2 linked regions of the Homo sapiens genome follow. Each later gene encodes a partner of the first gene's protein in a complex. Each region holds a gene or a part of one and is shown in the gene's direction. Other genes may lie near its edges.

Evidence for each region. The genes of interacting proteins can lie anywhere in the genome.
Region 2: STX18 (region 1) and STX7 share a complex: the UniProt entries of both Homo sapiens proteins name them as parts of the SNARE complex.

What each region holds. Positions count from the first base shown.
Region 1 is NC_000004.12:4,420,049-4,427,079, reverse strand, and holds part of STX18 (syntaxin-18), read left to right. Parts: intron 1-1,857; coding exon 1,858-1,916; intron 1,917-3,492; coding exon 3,493-3,562; intron 3,563-6,135; coding exon 6,136-6,216; intron 6,217-6,950; coding exon 6,951-7,031. UniProt on the Homo sapiens protein: Syntaxin that may be involved in targeting and fusion of Golgi-derived retrograde transport vesicles with the ER.
Region 2 is NC_000006.12:132,447,113-132,454,143, reverse strand, and holds part of STX7 (syntaxin-7), read left to right. Parts: 3' UTR 1-7,031. UniProt on the Homo sapiens protein: May be involved in protein trafficking from the plasma membrane to the early endosome (EE) as well as in homotypic fusion of endocytic organelles. Mediates the endocytic trafficking from early endosomes to late endosomes and lysosomes.

The sequences.
Region 1 (7,031 bases):
CTGAACAAGTGTGAGAAATGTCCTTGAAGAGCCAAGTACAGGGGAACTTGGTAACAAGAGTGAGAAAGTAAGAGAAGGTGATTCAGTCTGCCCTGAGGTATCAGATCGCTAGGAAGATGCCTGGGGTTTTGAGGGACCACGTGGAGTTCTGCAGCCAGGCAGGAAACTAGCCTGTCAGAGCAGAGCTGAGATGGGAGATGTCACGTGGCCAGGGCATGGATAACAGTGTGCCCTAGACCTGATCTGTAGGGTCAGCGGGCAAGGCCACCATGAGGCATTCTGGCATGACCAGCACTTGAGATCACTTTGACCAAGGATTGGATAACAGGTTGGAGGCAAGTGAGAAACGGTGAGGGTGGAATGTGGACGGTAGGGGAAGGGCTGAATACAGCAAGTGCATGTGCGGGGGCGAAACTGGTGGACTTAGGAAGGGGCGTGTGTGTGAAGAGCGCCTGCATAGAGCACAGCTGGGGTACTTGGAGGGGAGGGGTCCTGGGTGGGAAGGAGGCTGCTGGGGAGACCCTGCAACTCATTTCCGCCCTAGGACAATGGCAACAAGGTCAGGCTGTTGAATGAAGTGCCAGCATAGCCCGTGGTGGTCAGCTGCCTCCCATAACCATTGTTTCCCTTGTATTTTTGGTTTACTAAGCAAGTGATAAGCCAGATCTTCCATCGATTCGGAGCCTCCAGAGGCTTGCTTGTATGTATCCCTCCCACTCCTGCTTACAGAATGCCTCAGAAAATATTTGTGGATTTGATGGCAGCTTTAATCTATAAGAAAGAAAGAACAACTGGAATGCCTTTGCAAAGTTATGTTCCACCCAGTTCCCGCCCTCAGGAAGCTCAGGGTGACACGGGAAGTTTGGGATGGGCACAGTTTATTACAAGGCAGAAAGGGACCGTTGGGCGCTACTATCCTAAGATATTTTCAGAAAATGGTAGGCCAAGGATAGGAATATGAGAAATAAGTTTGAGCTTAGGGGCCAGGGTAGGTGTCCTGGAGAAGTGGGGCCTGCGGGATGCATCGGGGAGGAAATGCAGGACGCCCCTGACTCCCTGCACATTGCGGGAGTTGAGTGGACACACGAGGACAGGGCTGTGGGGGCCTGCAGTGAGGGCAAGGAGCTGTTCCTGTCCATTCTCTGTGCTGAGTTTCAGGAGCTTCCATCCTTTTCTTTGGCCCATATCAAACTGGCAAGAATGGCTGGGAGAGCAACTGTCTGTGCCAAGCTCACTCAGCTCCAAGAAGCTCCCATGTATCCCTGGTGTCAGGGCACCCGTCCTCACCCAGCCTGAGCACTGGGAAACACGCTCCTCTGGCTCTGGGCCTCTGTCCCTGTTGAGCAGTGGAGTGGCCAGGCTCTGAAGTCAGAGGGGCCCAGAGGCAGCTCGGCCAAGCTGCCCACCTCCCCTTCCTCTCCAGACCCTCCCCACACCAGATCCTTCTCCATATTAAAAAATATGTATAGTCCTTCAGTATAGTTCATGAGAGAAAACAACAACAAAAGAATTTTCTTAATAATGGTACTAGAGTCAGGAAGCAGGCCGTGGGATCCCAGGGGAGAGCGGGTAGGTAGATACAGCTACAGCCATAGCAGTCAGCTTGTACCCCTGGAGTGCAGTGGTTGAGATGGAGAAGTCAATTACCAGGCAGCACAGCTGTTTTTTAAAACTTTCTCCTGAAAGCAGGGACGTTGTTCACACTAATGCTAACGGTCGTCCAGCACCGGCTGCCACGTTGCCGCAGCTGGAAATGGGGGCTTCGGCAGTGATTCCTGGAGCGTAGGTCCGCTTTCTTGCTAGACTCTTGCCTAAGTTCAGTATGATGTCATCCTGAGTGTGTCTGTTTCCTCACAGTTTGAACAGGAAAATCAGCGACTAATTGGTGAAATGAACAGCTTGTTTGATGAAGTGAGGTATGTTTGTAGCTCCTCTGTGAGCTGATAGCCTGCTTTACAACTTTTCCAGGAACTAGGAACTTTATTTACCTTGGTGCCCAGGCATCCCCATGGGGCCCTTGGGCTGGTGCAGCCCCCCTCAGCCATTTTGACTGGGCTGGGGTGGGCATGTGGCCTGAATCCACAACTCCCTCAGCTTGTGGGCCTGTGGGTTACCTCCTGCCTGCTGCCACTGCTGCGGGGGGCCCAGGTGCTTCCCACCCCGAGAGATACAGGAGTGACTACAGATTACCTGCGTATAATTTCCACCACCATTCGGGCTGTTTCCACGCAGCGACTCTGAAATGAAATGGGGCCCTTATGAAGGGCAGCTAACCAAGGGAAGCCCTCTTCTGCAAATGGTTCCACTGGGGTCTGCCTGCTCCTGTACCCACCAGGGAGTCAGGAATGCAGAAGGCAAGGCCTTGGTCACTCACACATGCACCCGTTAGCCTCTAGTTTCTGTGGGAAGGCTTGGAGCATGCTGAAAGTAAGGCCCAGGACTTTGCAGAGCCTGTTGTATTGTGGACATGTCCCCCAAATAAAATCAATCCTGATGCTGCACTCACACAGCCTGAGGACTTTCTCAGTGTAGGTGTCAGCCTCCAAGGGGCTCTTCGCCTTCTGCCCTCAGAGATGGACCTCCTAGTCCTCCTCTGACAGCCTAGCTTTCACTGTCTGCCCCACTACCGCCCCCACCCCGCTACTCCCCCATGCCCAGATACTCACTGGCTTTTCTTCCCACATCTCCTCCCCTGCCCCCTGCCACTGTGATACTGTTGGGATTCATCACTGCTTCCACCTGGCCAGGAGCTCAGCTCCCACCACTTTTTGCCTCCTGTCACTTCCTGTCGCTGCTTTGTGCTGGAACAGCAGTTGACTTCAGCTTGGGCCAGCTTCTGTTTCTAAATAGATGTGCCCCCACCCGCCCCCCAGGGTAGCCCATGCTGCCCCTGACACCAGGAAGATGGCTAGCCCAAGTGTTTCAGATCCGACAGAACACTCCGTTGCCAAACCAAGACATGGCATTTTCTAAATGAATCAGAGGAGCTTTTTTCTTGGAACAGGGAGTTGGTTTGAAGGTAAATACACTTTTTTCTTTAACCTGCTGAGCATTAACAAAGCTGGATCATCAGCATATTCTGACCTTCTGAATCCCCACCATGTGTTACCATGGTGATGAGGCTAGGCAGAGAACTTACTGGAGACTGCTTTCTGTAACTGGGGCACAACCAGGCCCTCCCCATTCCCCGAGCAGTGACACAGAATGCAAAGGGCACTGCACACACCCACCTCTTGGGACTGAGGGTCAGTTGGCATGGTAGAGTGGACTTCCAAAAAGACCAGTGTGCTAGGCTATGCCAGAAGACAGGGAAGGTGACCCAGTAAGGAGAGTTCGCCTTCCTCTCCCATCTCCTCTTCCCCCAGCCGACACAGTGTGCCCCCTGTCTCTCCCACCTTCACGTAGAAGATAGGATTTCTTTAGAAGTGTGTAACAGTCCTGTTAGATTACCAAGTGCTAATAGTTAATATGTAATCTGTTCTTTTTATGAAGGCAAATCGAAGGGAGAGTGGTTGAGATTTCCAGACTCCAAGAGATATTCACGGAAAAGGTTTTGCAACAGGTAAAAAAACAAAAACAAAGGAGCTGTATGTTTTCACTCAAAGGGGAATGTACTTGAGAGCACGAGACATTTTTCCCAAAGGCTGCTGCTCTACACAGCCAGGAGCAGAGCCATGTGTTGCTAGCAGGTGTGTGTGCGCAGAGCTCCTCAGGGAAAAGCTCTCACTACCCAGAGCTGCCTCTGCACACGTGTGATGGAGGAGGAGCTCCCCACAGGGGACCCACTGACCACCCCATGTGGTAGCACATGCGGTGGCACGTGGGAGGAGAGTCCAGGCCTGGCAGTCAGGGTTCTGGATGTGCTGGGTAAGCTAGGTAGCCCCCACAAGCTACAGTTTCCCATCTATAGGAGGGAGGGACTCCTGCAGGGTTATTCTCTGTTTGAGAGATAACTGCAGAAGCATCCAGCACGATGCTGACGGGCAGTTGCTTTTCAGTCAGTAGGTTACAGGAGCTCAGACCCAGGCCTCTCACAACGCGCGGTCCATGCCACCTCAGGGATGGTGTCTGCGTGGGAAATAGGATTGTTCTTTTCAAGTGAATTTTCTGAAATTCTTCCAGCCAATAACTGGCAAAACTTTTCAAGACCTGATAAATTTGCCCTTTTATTTTTAGCATCCAAAGACTATGGGAACGTTTGAAAGACAAAATTTTCTCCAGTATTTTAAACTGGACTACTTGACTTAAGATACTTCACTCACAAAATGACTTTCCATAAACCACACAGCCAGAGTGAAATCATTGTAAATGAGGTACATTAAGTCTAACAGTGGTTTGCAAGTTCGGGTTCATAGGAGTCGCCCTTTTTAATAACACTACCCTGCTTCAAACCTCCCAGCGGCTCCAGGGGGCCTGGGAGGGGCGTGCAGAGCATAGGCAGAGCCTTGCCTTGGCTCACCGGGAGTTTCTTTTTCTTTTCTTTTTTTTTCTTTTTCTTTTTTTTTTTTTTGGAGACAGAGTCTTGCTGTGTCGCCCAGGCTGGAGTGCAATGTTGCTATCTTGGCTCACTGCAACCTCATCCTCCCAGGTTCAAGCGATTCTCCTGCCTCAGTCAGCCTCTTGAGTAGCTGGGATTACAGGCATGCCACCACGCCTGGCTAATTTTGGTATTTTTAGTAAAGACGGGGTTTCACCATCTTGGCCAGGCTGGTCCCGAACTCCTGACTTCAGGTGATCCACCTGCCTTGGCCTCCCAAAGTGCTGGGATTACAGACGAGAGCCACTGCGCCCGGCCCACTGGGAGTTCCTAAGTCCTGAGGAACAATGTGTCTTTCTTGTTTTTTCCATCAGTGTTGCATTGTAGTTCATATTGATTCTCTCATTGGAACCTTGGCAGTGGTCACTTAGTTCACACTTTGAGACTCTCTAAAAAGGGGTGATGATGAGGCAAAGCCATCCCAGTAATATTCATTGCTGGGAATCAGAGGCCACATGCTGCCTTCCTCCCTACAATGTGTCAGTCAGGTTTCTCTAAAAACCCACGCTAGCATTCATTCTGCCCTGACCCTGTTAGGAAGCAGCTTCACCACCACCGAAAGGAGGAGAGAAGCAGGCACTCCTGCTTGTAAGGACGTCTAGCACCGTCTCTGCTCCTGTGGGGCCAGACGCCCCCTGTGTTATCCCACGCTTCTCAAGCTTTTCAAGGCTTCGTTTGGAGTAAACGTTTTCTGTAAGCATCCTGCATCCTATTTTGATTTTTAAATTTTAGCCTGTTTTTTAAGAGATATGATGATAGTAAAACACAAAGCACTATTTTTGAAGCTAGCATATGTATTTCGAAGCACATACATTTTAAAGCTTACTTCTGTGGACTTCAGAAAGAAATGAGAGACTAGAAGGGAAGCCCCTGGCATATGGTGGCTGCTCCACAAACAATAGCTCTTAGGTTTTTGTCCGTCACCGGCGAGTGGCGCAGGAGGGATGGTAAGTGTGGCGGAAGGAGCACTGCAACAAGATGGGGTCTCAGCCCTGCGCGGTGGCTCATGCCTGTAATCCCAGCACTCTGGGAGGCCGAGGCGGGAGCATGGTGTGAGCTCAAGAGTTCAAGACCAGCCTGGGCAACATAGGGAGACCCCCCATCTCTACAAAAAATTTTAAAAATTTAGCCAGGCGTGGTGGCACATGCCTATACTCCCAGCTACTTGGGAGGCTGAAGTGGGAGGATCGTTTAAGCCCTGTCTCAAAAAAAAAAAAAGTCTCAGTCCTGCCACTTGGTTGCTGTGTGATGTGACTTTGGGCAAGTTAGTAAACTTCTCTGAGCCGTGAGTTTCCGTTTCATAAAATAGAGGTAATACCTACTTCTTGGGGTGCTGTGAGGATTTGTGGCTATGCAAGTAAAGCCGTTAGCCCTTGGTGACGGCTACTGTTCTTGTCATGATATACGCTTCAGGGAGGAGGAAGTGGCTGTATATGTCAAGCATCCCTAAACTTCAAAATGTGAAGTCCTAAGTGCTCCAAAATCTGAAACTTTCTGAGCGCTGACATGACACTCAAAGGAAATGCTCGTTGGAGCATTTTGGGTTTCAGGTTTTTGGATAAAGGATACTCAACTTGTATTTATCTTTTCTTCCACAGGAAGCTGAGATTGACAGCATTCACCAGTTAGTTGTGGGGGCAACTGAAAATATCAAGGAAGGCAACGAAGACATAAGAGAGGTAGGCACTGTTTAGGTTCCCCAGGTGCGACGTGGCGCAGCACTGAGTCCCAGCAGCGGGTGTTAGTCTCGCCGGCACAGCTGCCCAGGAGCCTTGCTGGGCAGAGCTCACGGGGCTGATCACAAAATTGTGTGACCGCGGAGCTGCGTGTGTTCATGAGACCCACCACCTGTCGCCCACCTCCAGCTGCTTTCGAGAGGCAGTGGCTCACCAGCCTCCAAAGGAGCAATCCAGGGTGGGTGGGGGTACTCCTGGCAGGGTCAGGCCAGCTCTTCATGTCCAGGGATGTACATGGGTAGCTCGTTGGCCCCCACCGAGGGGTCAGAGCCTGGCCCCTGCTTACAGAGGACACTACAGCCATCCTGTTGAGGGGACTGTTTCCCAAGCTCAGTCCTCAGGGTTGGGTCACCACGGACATCATGTTACTGGGAAACACAAAGCTTGCGGTCACACTCTGCTCGGGGCCCTTAACCCTGGGACAGAAGGGAGTGATTCCGAGAGTTGTGTTGAGGGAGAATTGTGCAGGACCCAAATGATGGCCAAACAGAGGGAAATATAACCCATTTGTCTTCTGGTGGATCTCAAAAGCCATCTATTCAAGGTAAGCACAGATGGAACGACACCCATAGTTACAGCCAGGATCAGGAGAGCACGTGGGAAGAGGGGGGCATTTCAGGGCTGCTCAAACCAAAATCCTGTGTGATAAAAACACCTGTGCTCCCGTCCCTGCCCAGGCCATTAAAAACAACGCTGGCTTCCGCGTGTGGATCCTCTTCTTCCTCGTGATGTGCTCCTTCTCCTTGCTCTTCCTCGAC
Region 2 (7,031 bases), on another chromosome or scaffold:
CTGGAGGTTAATCCAGCTTATTATGTGTATCAAGTCTATTGACAGGTACTTTTTAGTGTGAATAGAATCCCATAGTATAGATGTACCACAGTTTGTTTAACTGTTCACCTGCTGAGAGACATTGGGCCAGTTTTTGGCTACTATAAATAAAGTTGCTATAAACATTTGTGTACAAGTTTTTGTGTGAACATAATCTAGTTTTCTGGGTCAAATGCCCAGCAGTTATATAGTAGTTGGGTCATATAGTAGTTGAATGTTTAGTTTTTAAGAAATTGCCAAACTTATACCAAGTAGCTGTACTATTTTATATACCCACCAGTGGTGTATGAGTGATCTAGTTGCTTCATGTCCTTTTCAGCATTTGGTGGTGTCTCTTTTTTATTTTAGTCATTCTGATAAGTGTATAGTGACAGCTCATTGCAGTTTTGATTTACCATTTTCCCTTCGCTAATGGCAATGATGTTGAGCATCTTTGTTTCATATGCTTATTTGCCACCTGTATCTCTTCTTTAGTGACATGTTTCTTCATGTCTTTTCTAATTGGATTTTTTTTCTGTTGAGTTTTGAGGGCTTTTAAATAATGTGTGTGTGTGCCTCTGTGTGTGTGTGTGTGTATTTTTTTCTAGATACTAGTCCTTTGTTGGATGTGTGATTTGCAAATATTTCCTCCCAGTCAGTAGCATGTCTTTTCATTTCTCTTTTCTGGGCCTTTCACAGAGCAGAAGTGTTTAATTTTGATGAAGTCCACTCTATCCATTTTTCTTTTTATGGATCATGCTTCTGGTATCAAGAACTTTGCCTCTCTCCTTAGATCCCCCAAATTTTCTCTTTTATGTTGTTTTCTAAAAGTATTATAGTTTACGTTTTACTTTTAAGTCTATATTCCATTTTCAGTTAATTTTGTATAAAATGTGAGACTTAGGTCTGGGTTCATTTTTTTTGTTGTTGCCTATGGATATTCAATTACTCCAACATGATATTTGTCGAAAAGGCTCTTTTTTGTCCATTGAATTGTTTTTGCACCTCTGTCAAAAATCAGTTGAGCAAAAATGAGTTAATGAGAAATCAGTTGGGCACATTCGTGTGGGTCTATATCTGGGTTTTCTATTCTTTTCCATTAGACTATGTGTCTATACCTCCACCAACACCAAAATCTTGATTACTGTAGTAAGTCTTGAAATCAAATAGGCTGGTTTATTCCACTTTCTTTTTCAAAATTGTTTTAGCCACTTAGTTCCTTTGTCTTCCCGTATAAACTTTGGAATAATCTTGTCTGTATCTATTCAAATATCTTACTGGGATTTTGACAGGAACTATGTTATACCTATACATCAATTTGGGGAGATTTGACATCTTTACCATGTTAAGCCTTCCCGATCATGATCACAGGATCACTTCACTTCATTTCAGTTAAATTTTGTTTTCCTTCATCAGTATTGTGTGGTTTTCAGCATACAAGGTCTGTACATGTTTTGTTAGATTTATACCTAAGCAATTTAATTTTTGAGAGAGATTGTAAATGGCATTGTATTTTGAATTTCCTGTTCACATGTCTATTCTAAGTACATAGAAATAAAGTGAATTTTTCTATTTTGTATACTGAGACCTTATTGAGCCCACTTACTCATTTTAGGGGATTTTGATTGATTCCTTGGGATTTTTTTTTTATATAGATAGTCATGTCATCTGCAAATAATGAATAGTTTTATCTCTTCATTTCTGACCTATATTCCTTTTTTTTTTCCTTTCAGTCCCTTAATGCAGTGGGTAGAAATTCCAGCAGAAATAAAAGCAGTGAGAGTAGAGATCCTTGGCTTGTTTCTGGTCTTAGGCAGAAAGGATTCAGTGTTTCACCATGAAGTATAATGTTAGCTGTAGGTTTTTAAAGTAGATGCTCTTGCTAAAGTTAAGGAAGTTATCTTTTATTCCTTTTTTTCTGCAAGTTTTTATTATGAATTTTATGTTGAATTTTGTCAAATGCTTTTTCTGCCTTAATTTACATAATGCCATTTTTCTTCTTTAGCCCATTCATGTGGTAGATACATTGATTGATTTTTGAATGTTGAGCCATTGTTACATCCCTGAGATAAACTCCACTTGGTCGTGGTGTATCTTTGTATATATAGCTTAATTCTTTTGGCTAATATTTTGTTAAGGATTTTTGCATCTGTTTTAATGCGACATACTGGTTGGTGGTATCAGGGTAATACTAGCTTCAAAATGAACTGGAAAGTATTCCTTTCTCTTCTGTTTTCTAAAGCGGATTGTATAGAATTGGTGTCAGCGCTTTTTAAAACATTTGATAGAACTTTCCAATGAAATCATCTGGGCCTGGAGATTTTGGGGGAGGGAGTTCTTTTTATTGTAATTTCCACTTTTACAATAGTTATATGGCTGTTTAATTTATCTATTTCATATTGAGTTGTGACAGTTTGTATTTTTAGATGAATTAGTCCATTTCATCTAAGCTCTCAGATTTATATGTAGAGTTTTTGGTTGTATTTTTTGTTAGACTTTTGATGTCTGATATTCCAAAACTCCTTCATTTATCATTTCCTTTCTGTTTAGAGCACTCCTTTAGCCTTATTATTATTATTGTAGTTCCATTGGCAACAAATTCTCTCAGTTTTCTTTCATCTGAAAATGTCTTGATTTTCCCTTGATATCTGAAGAATATTTACATTAGACATAGACTTGTAGGTTTATAGTTCTTTTCTTTCAGCACTTGAAAATTGTTCTGCCACTTCCAGCCAAGAGGGGTGGCTCACGCCTGTAAGCCCAGCACTTTGGGAAGCCAAGGCGGGCAGATCACTTGAGGTCAGGAGTTTGAGACCAGCCTGGCTAACATGGCGAAACCCCGCCTCTACTAAAAATACAAAAATTAGCCGGCATGGTGGTGCACATCTGTAATCCCAGCCATTTGGGAAGCTGAGGCAGGAGAATCACTTGAACCCGTAGGCGGAGATTACAGTGAGCTGAGATCGCACCACTGTACTCCAGTCTGAGCAACAGAACGAGACTCCTTGTCAAAAAAAAAAAAAAGGAAAGAAAATTTCATGGTTCCCCATGAGAAATCCAGTTTTTTAAATTGTTTTGGTCCCTATAGATAGGTGTCATTTGTCTTTTTTCTTTTTCTTTTTTTCCTTTGTGTTTAGTTTTTAGTTGTTTAACCATGATGTATCTTGTAGATTTGGGGGGTTTATTATATTTGAGGTCTTCTCACCATCTATATGTTTATGTCTTTTGCCAATTTTGGGGAGTTTTCAGCTGTCATTTTTTTCAAGAACTTTTTCAGTCTTCCTTCTTTCTTCTTTCTTTTGAGACTCTGATGACACAAATGTTAGATTTATTGTAGTTCCGTAAGTCCCTGAGGTTCTGTTCATCTTTGTTCTGCCTGTTTTCTTCTGTTGTTCAGACTGTGTAATTTCTATCATTTTATCTTCAGATTTATTCATTCTTTCTGCAGTAGCTTCCATTCTGCTATTGAGCCTATCAATTAAGTGTTTCATATTGATTCCTGCATTTTTCAATTTTAAAATTTCTGGCCCTTTACCGAAAATGTTGGTTGACCCCTGGAGTATAAACCTATACTATAGAAGAGAGTATCAATTTTTTTTTTTTTGAGAGGATCAATTTAAACAAAAGTTGGTCTCTTTAAATAAATAAAGTACACATAACTTGGTGAAACCGATTTGGAAAAAAACAGAAGACATAAAAAATTTAGGAATGAAAGTACAGATAAATAACCAAACATAGATTTTAAAATAATAAGACACTATAAACAACTTTATGCCAATATATCACAAAACAGAAAATGAATAATTTATATGAAAAATGCAAATTACCAAAATCAACTACGAAGTAGATGATTTCTGCTTCCTGCCATATGGTTGACTAGGTATACTCAAGGATCCTCCTGCTAAAATACAGTTAGTTCTTGGATAAAATACAACACACATAATATTAGTTCATTTCCTGGCTCATTAGAAAGAAAGATAATCACTAAAGGCTATTACCAATGAGAGTGGGCTAAAATTAAAGTAGTTGAGAAACAGGAAAACTGTGCCTCTGAGACTTAAGCCATGGACTCCAGGCAAAGTAAAGAAAGTGAACCTAAGATTCCTTCATAAAACCAGGAATGCTTTAAAGCATTAAAGTAGTCCTAAGTCAGTGGACTCTGGTGGTTACTCTAAGAAGTGGATGAAAATCCCCTCCGAAGGAAAGCCTCCCTAATTAATGCTTCTAGATTAATCAAACATGCAAGGAAACACACCATTTGCATTGAGAAACAGTAGATTTAGATATTCAAGGAATTCAGGTATTGCAATTAGCAGAAGTAGAATAACAGTTATATGTTTAAATAATGTATGAATTAAAACGAACATGAAATGAGAGATGTGTTAAAAGGCAGATATTAAAAAGAACCAAAGACAACTTAGGTATGAAATTTAATTATTGAAATATATAACATAATGAATGGTTTAAGAGCAGATTCACCACAACTAAAGGAATTGTTGACTATCAAGTTTTAACTGAGGAAACAACATATTGCAGCAAAAACAGGTAAAGGGATAGAAAATAAGAATTAGAGATTATGAGACCTGAAGGATAGAATGGGAAGGTTTAATATGTGCTGATTGGAGTCTAAGAAGTAAAAAATAGAAAAAAATTGAGGTAATTGCTGACAAATTTCCAGAGCTAAGAAAAGCCTGGGACCTGGTATGGTGGCTTATGCCTGTAATCACAGCATTTTGGGAGGCCAAAGCAGAAGGATCACTTGAAGCCAGGAGTTTGAGATCAACCTGGGAAATGAAGCAAGAGCCCCCACTCCATCTCTACAAAAAAAATTAAGAATTAGCCAGATGTGGTGACATGAACCAGTAGTCCCAGCTACTTGGGAGGCTCAAGTGGGAGGATCACTTGAGCCCAAGAGTTTAAGACCAGCCTGAGCAACATGGTGAAACTCCATCTGTACAAAAAATACAAAAATTAGCCAGGCATGGTGGCACACACCTGTGGTCCCAGCTACTCAAGAGGCTGAGGAGGGAGGATCACACGAGCCCAGGAGTTCAAGGCTGCAGTGAGCTATGATGGTGCCACTGTACCCTGTCTAAAAAAAAAAAAAGTGGATCCACATATACAAGAAGCAAAATGTATATCAACCAGGAAAAGGAAGCCAATGTATATTCATTATACTCAAACTTCAGAACAATAAAGGCAAAGATATCTTAAAAGCAGCCAGAATAACTTATCCACTTTTAAAGGAATAACGAATTGACAGACCTTTTTTTTTTTTTTTTTTTTTTGAGACAGAGTCTTGCTCTGTCACCCATGATGGAGTGCAGTGGTGTGATTTCTGCTCACTGCAACCTCCATTTCCCGGGTTCAATTGATTCTCCTGCCTCAGCCTCCCGAGTAGCTGGGAGTACAGGTGTGCGCCACCACAACCTGGCTAATTTTTTTGTATTTTTAGTAAAGACGTGATTTTGCCATGTTGGCCAGGCTGTTCTCGAACTCCTGACTTCAGGTGATCTACCTGCCTTGGCCTCCCAAAATGCTGGGATTAGAGGCATGAGCCACTGCACCTGGCCAACAGTAGACTTTTCAGTGCCAAAACTGGAAGGCAAAAGACAGTGGAATAACATCATTAAGGTACTGAGAGAATAACTCAATAGAATGAGTGCCCAGTGAAATTATCTTTCAAAATCAAGGGTATATTAAAAACACTTTTTTCTCAAAATGAGAATTTACAAACAAGGGACTTTCACTTAAGAATAAAGATGAATTTTAGAGTACAGCAAAATGACTAGGAGGAAAGTCTGAGATGCAAGAAGGTATGGTGAGCTAAAAAATCAGTAATCATGGGAAATGTAAATAAATACTGTCTATATTAAGAAGTATTTACTCTGTGGAGTAAAAAAGAGCGTAATTAAAATACTAGCAACATTTTACATAACTCAGGAAATGTATATGTGGGGAAAGTGTCCGGGAGCACTTAGAAGTTAGTGTGAGTGCTCCAAGATCCTGATACTCTTTAGGATGGAAGTTAAGATAATGAATGACTTTAGATGTTGTTAATCTAAGTACTTAACAGAAAATTTTCAGATAACCTTTAAAGAATAGCAATACAATATAACTTTCAAACCAGTAGAGAGGAAACATTCTGAAATAAGGGAAAAACACTTTAGAAATCCCAACTTTGATAGACCACAAAAATGCAAGAAGGAAGAAAAAGCATAGAAAAAGCAAAGAAATGGCATAGTATATAATAAATGGTTACAATAAATATAAATTGCCTATCTCACCAGATTAATAAAAAAAAAAGTCTACCTTGTTCAATATATACAGTTTACAAAAGACAGTACAAGGACAGAGAAAGACAAAAAGTAGAATTAGGGAAAATAAAACAAGCAAATATACCTGGTTAGGATAGCTGTATCAGTATTAGCCTTACAAATATTAAAGTGAAAAGCATTAATAAGGATAAGGAGACTCTCAAAAATAATAAAAATTTCAACTGAAGTAGGTATAACAGTTCTAAACAAAGTTATTAAAGTAAAAATGTAGAGGGCAAAACGGAAAAAAAAACTATTATGTTGTATTTGAAGTCACTCAATTTTTAGCTCGAGCAGCAAAAAAGTAAATAGAACAACATGGTAACCAAAGTTGATTCAATTAATACATAAAGGATCATGTTCCCCCAATTTAGAGCATGTGCATATTTCTTAAGCATGTATAAAAGATTTAGAAGGAAAATGATAAAGGAATGTTTTGGGGACCTCTGATAGGGAAAGATTTCTTAGAAAATCTGCAAAAGATATTAACCATAATCTACATAAAGTCAACTGTTTTATTTCAAGCCTCTCTGGAAATAGTTTTGTTGACTGATAAGAAACGCTCTATGTCAGTCAGCTAATCAATGTCTAGTGAGTCTAACTCTTTCCACTACACAGTAAGTTCCATCTTAGGGTGTTTTACTTAAAAGCCTGGTGTCAAATGTTACACGCACAAAAACTTATTAGTATCTTTTT